2 separate regions of the Homo sapiens genome follow, and region 1 is linked to region 2. Evidence: fine-mapped expression QTL. A gene starts in region 2. The other region holds a variant in brackets. All regions are shown on one strand. Distances are between the middles of the regions. Region 1 holds the start of SLC25A4 (solute carrier family 25 member 4). Region 2 holds the start of CFAP97 (cilia and flagella associated protein 97).

Region 1 (4,388 bases), 61 kb after region 2:
GATAATGATGCCTTGGACAGAGACGTTGAAACCCTGGTAGAGCCCCCTCAGGCCATCAGACTTGAAGATCTTGATGATACAGTCGCCCAGACCATGGAACTCACGCTGGGCGGCGCCCTTGCCCACATCAGCAGCCAACCTGGTCCTAGCAAAGTCCAGCGGGTAGACAAAGCAAAGGGAGGTGGCCCCAGCGGCCCCACCGGACGCCAGGTTACCAGCAAAGTAGCGCCAGAACTGCTTATGCCGATCCACACCCCCTAAGAAGAGCTGCTTGTACTTGTCCTTGAAGGCGAAGTTGAGAGCTTGGGTGGGGAAGTAACGGATCACGTTGGCCAGGTTACCCCTCCAGAAGGAGAGGAAGCCCTGCTCCTTAGGGATTCTCACCACACAATCAATGATCCCTTTGTACTGCTTCTCAGCACTGATCTGTTTGCTGGCATGCTGGACCTGGTGGAGGGGAGGGTGGGTGACAGAGGACAGGCAGGGTAGAGAGAAGGGAAGAGGACAGGAGAAAAAAAAAGGTTTGCACTTCCTAGATTTTTTTTTTGAAGAAAAAAAGGATGAGGAAATCAAATGGATACTGAGGACGTGTAAATGGATACTGTTATCCATGTTAGTTACTGGATAACAAGCCAAAATAATCCAATGTTGCTTCAATTATTAGGGTATTTGAGGGAAAAGGTATTGCCCCAAATAAACTGAAAAGGTGATTGAATTATATAAAGCTATAGCCATTTATTTATTTCACTTTCCCTAGGTTTGAGAACTGTATGAGGGGCTTACTGGGGGACAGAAATGAGTAACACTCCCTGCTTCAAAGGGCTTTGGATTTAATAGACATGATGGCCAAAAAATGACAATTTCTCAGTGTCACTCTGATCACCCTGGAGATGAGGATCTCTACTAGATGCTCTAATAGAGGAAGGAGAATAAATCCACTAAACATTAGGCCTCCAAAGTTTTCAAGCAGATAATCCAAGTAATCAATTATTAAGGGTTTGCTGCCGTTGTGAGCAATTTGTGGGGGTTTTGTTGTTAGTAATTCTGACTCCCAAATTGGGCTCTTCCTCATTGAGGGGCCCTGACCTTTTGGGCAGGTGGAGGAAAACACGAGAGGATGATAAACCATTCAGCGACCAGGTAGGGGAGGAAAAGATTTGGAGACAGGATGATCTGAGTTTATTCCGAAAATTGTTTCTTAATATTTCAAAACCTCAGCTTCATCTGTAAAATGGAGAAGAATAACTCTCTCACAGAGGTTACATAAAGATGAAGGCGTCAGCCTACATACAGCATTGTGCATGAGATACGATAAGGGAATTCTTGGGTGATGATTATTTTGATGTTTTTATTGTAAAGGTGCGTGCGCATAAGACGGTGCCAAAAATACTGGCAATCACTAGGTGCCTCCGGGCCTGAGTGCACGCCCGTGCTGTCACGGGCGCAGGATCTGGCACACGTAAACCGGCTCCGGGTGGGTTTCCATATATAGACACCCGAACGCCGGGCGCCACCCGACACCAGGAATCTGCGACTGACGCTGGACCTGTCTCTACGCAGAGGGCACCTTCTTCCCCCGCGGGCGGGCGGGCGGGCGGGCGGGCGCCCGGGCCTGTGGCCTGGCGCAGATTTTCCGCGGCGCCCCGCGCCCTGCAGCTCGCGCCGCATCGCGCGCCCCGCCCGGCCCGCCGCGCCCGCGCCCGCCTCTTGCACCGCGCGGTCCTCACCTGCAGCAGCAGTTTGACCCTCTCGATGGGGGCGACCGCGGTCTTGGAGACGGCAGCGGCGACGCCCCCGGCCAGGAAGTCCTTTAGGAAGCTCCAAGCGTGATCACCCATGGTGACAGCTCGACGCTCTCAGCC[C/T]GCAGGCAGCCCGTTCGTGCTCTCGCCCACGCCCGGCCTGGCACCGCCGCGCAGTCCCCGACCCTGCGCGACGCTAGGGGGCCGCCGCCTGGCCCGCAGCTCCCCCTTATATCCCCGCCGGGCTCTCGCGAGAGGAGGCGGGTCGCGGCCGGCGCTCGCGCCGCGCATTGGCTGGGCAGGTGCGGGGCGCCCCCTCCTCCCAGCTGCAGAGGGCATCGGGGGCGAAGGCGCTTCCGGGAGCGAGGCTGGGCCGGGGGCTGTCCCTGCAACTTGGGACGTTTAAAGGGCACATTCATGTTATCTGTCCCGCCGAGCCCAGGGAACACCGTGTCACCGCGGCATGTGGGCCGCGTATTTATAGCACAGGCAGCCTTAGGCCGGGGCGAAGCCGGGGCAGACACCGGGCCGCTGCCGCCGGTGGAGAGTTCTTGACCCTCCGGCCTGCACGGGCCGCGCTCAGGCCCAGGGATTTCGAGCTGTTTCCTCCTTCTTGCATCTAAAGGCGCCCCCCACCAGAGCTCACTGCCTGGATATGGGCCTCTTTAGAGCCGTGCGCTCCCGAGAATAAATGGCAGTCCTCTCAAATAGATACTAAGGTCACCTGATGCTGTGATTGCCTCATAGAATCTGACAACCTGCTGCCTCTCATTTCTTTTCATTCAATCGTTCGTTCAGTCATTCATTCTGCTATTACATATTGATGTGTCTGGCACTCAGTGCCCACAGGAAAGACCTGGTGCAGGGGGCCACTAGGTGAATTCATACTTGTTTCTGCAAAACTCTGTGACTCTAAAACACAGGACACTTCTTTTGTAAGCCCCTAAAGGGTTCAATGTACCACTCTGCTCTCAGCGGAATTTCAGCACATATTAGGGCAGAATGTTCTGTCTGTCAGCCGGTGCCTTCTTGAGGGTCAGTGCTGTCAGCCTTCCGGAGATCCAGTCCTTGGCTGTATTTGCCTCTTTTTAATGACAGCTGGGGTTGAGGAAATGCTATTTAATCCCAGGAAATTAATTGCAATTAATTTCTTAAAATATATAAATCTGAGCTTTAATTTTCCTTAGCTTGTTTTTTAGGCAGTTCATGTAACCATACAGGTTTTCAAATACAACTGTTCCTTCCCCTAGAATGACTGCAATTCGTTTTTAACTTTAAACTCTTCACTCAATTATCTTCCCATGTTTGCTAATTTTCATTTGTACCTTTAACAAAGTTTATTCATTGTTTTATAAACTTTTTTTTTTTAATATTTGCTGACATCATGTTAGAGGTTTACGGAGCTGCAGCTGCGTGTCACCCTGGGCGTGGAGACTTTGGTATAGCAGAAGTCACTAAGGTTCCAGGGCCACAGAGGGCATGCGTTTATCTAAGAGTGGGGCAGGCTAGAGTTCCGAAATCCAGGTAAGCAGAATGAAAGCTAGAAACTAGTGGAAAGCTGCCAGAGGTCAGAGCAGACAGAAGTCAAGAACTCGGAAGAGACAAACAGATAAACCATGTATGTGTTCATTCAACAGACTCTTGCTGAGCATGTACTGTGTACCAAGAACTAGGTGTAGCCCTGTGGATTGAATATAAGTAGACGTGGCCCATCTCCAAAGACCTTACAGTTCAGTGTATTCGTCACTTGCTCCACTTTATCAAAACTTCACTTACTGATTTCCATGGATCAGCATAATCCACACAGTAAACCTTTTTAATTATAATAGTGTACTGTATCCCATCCTGTAATATAGAGCACTTGCTTTTATACCTCCATTTTCCTTTTAATTGTGCATTAGAATTGTGTCTTATTTTTATGATGAAAAATAGGCCGGGTGTGGTGGCTCATACCTTTGGGAGGCTGAGGCTGGCAGATTACCTAGGTCAGGAGTTCGAGACCAGCCTGGCCAACATGGCAAAACCCCATCTCTACTAAAAATACAAAAATTAGCCTGGCGTGATGGCTCATGCCTGGAATCCCAGCAGCTCAGGAGGCTCAGGCACGAGACCCCCGAGAGGCAGAGGTCATGGTGATCTGAGATCACTCCACTGCACTTCAGCCTGGGCAACAGAGAAAGACTCTGACTCAAAAAAAAAAAAAGAAAGAAAGAAAGAAAGAAAGGAAGGAAGGAAGGAAGGAAGGAAGGAAGGAAGGAAAACTAATACTGCTACATTGAAACTTACACAAACTTCATTTTCTCCTCTAAGTTTTTTCTTCTCATATATTTCCCAAATGGAATGGATAGATTTAAGATTTTTAAAGTTTTGTAGCTTTTGCTACATATTGACAAATTGCTCTTCAGAAATACCAACCCACCAGTTATATAGATGGGCTTTCTCTCACACTCTTCTCCAACACTGGCTTTAAAAAAATAGAGAGTTGGTTATTTGTGAGTTATTTATGAGTTTTAGTTTGTATTTACTTAATTACTATGAAGCTGTATATATTCCATATGATTCAATTTAATTTGACAGTTTGACAAGGTTTCCCTTTTGTATAAACTTTTAATCTTCCTTGACTACTGCTGGAGTGAAAGCAGAGTATTT
Region 2 (4,388 bases):
ATGCCTGGCTAATTTTTTGTATTTTTAGTGAGATGGGGTTCATCGGGCTGGTCTCAACCCCCCGACCTCAGGATCTGTCCACCTTGGCCTCCCAAAGTGCTGGGATTACAGGAGTGAGCCACCATGCCCGGCATACATCTTCCATTCTGTCTGTCCTGCAGACCATCTTAATGTTGTTATGTGGACCAGAGGCGCACAAGTCATGGGCTGAATAATATTCCATTTTATGTATCTACTACATTCTGCTTCATCTGTCTGTTGATAAACAAACACTTGAGTTTTTTCCGCCTTTTGGCTATTCTGCTATGAACATGGGTGCATAAGTATCTGTTTGAGACCCTGCTTTCACTTCCTTTTAGTGTATGTCCAGAAGGGAAATTGCTGGGTCATATAATTCTATGTTCAAGTTTTTCAGAACATGCCATACTATTTTCCACAGTGGCTGAGTATGCTACATTCTCACAAGCAATGCATAAGGGTTTCGATCTTTCCACATTCTTGCCAATCCTTATTTTCTATTTTTTTGACTAAAGCCATCGGTATCTCATTGTGTTTTTGACTTGCATTTCCCTAATTAGTGGTGTTGAGTATCTTTTCATGTGTTTATTGGCCATTGGTATATTTTCTTTGGAGAAATATCTACTCAAGTCCTTTGTAAGATAAACTTTTGACCACAGTTTGTTTATTTATTTAGAGACAGGGGCTTGCTCTGTCGCCCAGGCTGGAGTACAATGGCGTGATCTCAGCTTACTGCAACATTTCCCTCCTGGGTTCAAGCGATTCTTCTGCGTCAGCCTCCTGAGTAGCTGGGATTACAGATGTGCACCACCACACCTGGCTAATTTTTGTATTTTTAGTAGAGACGGAGTTTCACCATGTTGGCCAGGCTGGTCTGGAACTCCTGACCTCAGGTGATCCGCCCACCTCAGCCTCTCAAAGTGCGGAATTACAAACGTGAGCCACCGCGCCGGGCCAACCACAGTTTAACAACTATCCCTGGAAAGTGGTGCCAACACAGTTTTATTAAGCACTTTAAAAGAAAGTGAAATTCTTGCTTTTTTTTTTTTTGAGACACAGTCTTACTCTGTTGCCTAGGTTGGAGTGCAGTGGCACGATCTCGGCTCGCTGCAACCTCCACCTCCGGAGTTCAAGCGATTCTCCTGTCTCAGCCTTCCGAGTAGCTGGGACTACAGGCTCACGTCACCACGCCCAGCTAATTTTTGTATTTTTAGTAGAGACAGTGTTTCACCATATTAGTCAGGCTGGTCTTGAACTCCTCTCAGGGGGCCCCACCCGCCTCGGCCTCCCGAAGTGCTGGGATTACAGGGGTGAGCCACTGCGCCCAGCCAATGCTGTCTTTTAGGCAACAAAAAGAGAATTGATTATACTTTTGGTAATTAAGACCAACAAGTACAAAATGCATTGTGAAGGACGAAAATAGACAATCCTTACTGGAACTCCCCGGGACAGGCAGGGTAAGACCCATATTTCCTACCCTTCTTTGCACTTAGATGTGAACAATATTTATTAACTACTGGATTGTATACCATTGCTGCTATAACAAATTACTACAAATTCAGTAGTTAAAACAACACAGGTGTATTGTCTTACAGTGCTTAAGGTATTAAGTCTAAAATCAAAATTTGCAGGCTCTAGTTCCTTCCTGAGGTTTCAGGAGAGAATCCGTTTCCTCCTTTTGCAGCTTCTACCTGCACTCCTTGGCTCATTGCCTCTGACATCACTCCAACCTCTAGCTTCTGTGCTCACAGCTCCCACTACTGACTTTGAACTTCTTGTCTCCATCTTATAAGGACCTTTGTGATTCCATGGGGTTCACTGGATAATCCTGGTTAATCTTCCCATTTTGATCCTTAATCACATCAGCTAAATCCTGTCTGCCACATAAGGTGACATATTCACGTGTTGTGGGGACTAGGAGGTGCACATTTTTGGGGTGCCATCATCCTACCATACCTGAGAGTTCAACGAGAAGTTATTGTATTCAATATATTCTGCAGAGATCATTTTTACCTTAGATTGTTTTAACTACCCACCTCGTTTACCACTCGGCAAAGGTCTTTCCATTCTGAAACCAGCCTCTGGTCCACAGAACTAACTAGTGGTATGAACTGAAATTTGCTGATAGAAAATATCACAAACACACAGCCGCCGTTCTTTTTTATTCTTGGTTTGGTAGAGAATTACAAGATAATCAAGGCAGCTTTCCCTATTAACGCACGAGAACAACGGGGCCTACCCGCGCCGCCCTAGGCAGCCGGGAGCAGCAGTAACGCCTCTAGGGCGCCATGGCAACCACGCGGGCTGGACCGCCTTCTTCCGCGGCTCTTCTAGTGTGCGCGTCCCTGGCCCGGCCTCCACTCCGCCCGCGTGGAGCCCCGGCCTGGCCGCCTGCCCGCCGCGCTCTGTGACGCCCGCCGCGAGGGCCGCACGAGGCCCGGCGTGCGCCCCCGCCTCTCCCGAAGCGCCGGGCCCCACGCCGCCCCTCCTTTCCCTTTCCGCTCTCTCCGCCTCCGGAAGCGCGGGCGCGCGGCGCCGGGAGCCCGTTCAGGGCCGCGGGAGTGCGCCAGCGCCGCGCGTGGGGCTGTGGTGGCCGCGGCTCTCAGGTGAGGGGCGCGCGAGCGGCTCCTGGCTCCCTGCTCGCGGGGCGCCCGCCACGCTCCTTTCCGTTCGCATCCGTCTCCCCGCTCCGGAGCCCAGGCGGCGGCGAGTACTCGGGGTGGGTTTAACGAAGCCTGCGCGGACGGTGGGAGACCGCGCCCCCACGACAGGGGCGCCCGCGGCGGCGGGTCGCGGCGCCGTTCCACCCCGGTCCCCTGTGAGAATGGCGGGTCCCGCCCTCTCGCGCGTTCCGGGTGGCTTTGAGGGTCAGGATCAGCCCTAAATTGAGATTGGGCCGCGACCACATGCCGGGCCCTGACGACTTCTTCCTACTTGTAGGGACTCGAACCTAACCCACGAGGCCCGAGGGGTTATCTGCCTTCCGGGGACGGTAGGGGATGTAGACAAGAGCCTAGCGTTCCTGGAAACAGGTGTTTAATTTGGGCCGGGATTTTCATGTACCCAATTGGGCATCTTGTTGGAGGCCTACTGTGCTGTTTAACTACAGAAATGTATTGTCACAGTAACAAGATGACAGTTTAAAAAGTGCCCGGTGCTTTTCTGTGTATTTTCCTGATGTTTGGTGAAAGCATTAGTCTTGTTATTGCTGGTCTGTAGGACCTGGCAAGTGGGGCGTGCCCAGTGACTCTCAGGCAGCTTTGATAAAAACTTACCTGTCTCTTTTTTTTATTTTTATTTTTTGAGACAGGGTCTCGCTCTGTGGCCCAGGGTGGAGTGCAGTGGCACGATCATGTCTCACTGCAGCCTCCCAACTCCTGGGCTCAAGCGATCCTCCTGTCTTGGCCTCCCAAAGTCCGGGGATTACAGGCGTGAGCCATGCCCCTCCTGGCAAAACTCTGTCTTGATTGAGCACCAAAGGGTTGTTATGGTCTGATGAACTATCCTTTAATTTTATCCTTTCCTAGTCTGTTGTAAAGAGAATCTTAACTACTTTATTAAGTCATTTTTCTTATTCTCTGGTAAATTGAATCACTTACCTCGTAGTAAATGTTATCAAAAGAATTGCTCAGTGGATGGGATTGTTGGGTAAATTTTCCTGTAAATTAAGTCACATGAGTGTCGAAATCTTTACAGTAACTCTGTTGGATATTATTAACTAAAATTTAAACCTGAAAAGTCTCACAGGCACCGGACTATGCACCAGGGCGCATGAACTGTGACCACTTAGGGAGGCAGCTGGCTTCCAGCTCTTGGGGACTGCATGACCTTATCATGGAAATGCAGATAAAGGCATAGTTGTGGTTTGTGCTTCCGGAGGGGTGGGGGAAGATGGCAGGAAACTATCAAGGAAACTGGGTTGAAACCCGGTGATTTTTTTTGTTTGTTTGTTTTTTGAGATAGGATCTCACTCTGTTGCCTAGGCTGGAGTGCAGTGGCCTGATCTCGGCTCACTGCAGCCTCAGCTCCCAGGTTCCAGCGATTCTCCCACCTCAGCCTCCGGAGTAGCTGGGACTACAGGCGAGAGCTACAACGCCCGGCTAATTTTTGTATTTTTTGTAGAGGTGGGGTTTGGCCATGTTGGCCAGGCTGGTCTCAAGCTCCTGGGCTCAAGTGGTCTGCCTGCCTGGGCCTCCCAAAGTTACAGGCATGAGACTGTAACATGAGCCACCGCACATGAGCCTCCATGCCCAGCCACACACATACAAGGCGATTTTTCTACCCTCGTGGGTAGCAAAGAGCATGGCTCAATCTTAAATCTCCTAACTCCAAACTCCTTTGTGGGATAAACATTCTTTGAATGACTAAAT

What was found. PIP is the estimated chance that this variant, and not a neighbour inherited with it, causes the effect.
Region 1: its variant is fine-mapped to the expression of CFAP97 in whole blood (TOPMed, PIP 0.94).

The regions. Positions count from the first base shown.
Region 1 is chr4:185,140,823-185,145,210 of GRCh38, reverse strand. It overlaps SLC25A4 (solute carrier family 25 member 4), which reads right to left and starts at 1,945. Exons shown (of 4, transcript NM_001151.4): 1 at 1,728-1,945; 2 at 1-447. The coding sequence starts at 1,838. RefSeq lists a silencer at 1,874-2,173. The variant C/T (reference allele first, on the strand shown) is at 1,863.
Region 2 is chr4:185,202,134-185,206,521 of GRCh38, reverse strand. It overlaps CFAP97 (cilia and flagella associated protein 97), which reads left to right and starts at 2,522. Exons shown (of 5, transcript NM_020827.3): 1 at 2,522-2,624. It also overlaps a transcript of SNX25 not described here. RefSeq lists enhancers at 1,370-1,459, 1,570-1,679 and silencers at 2,439-2,610, 2,220-2,989.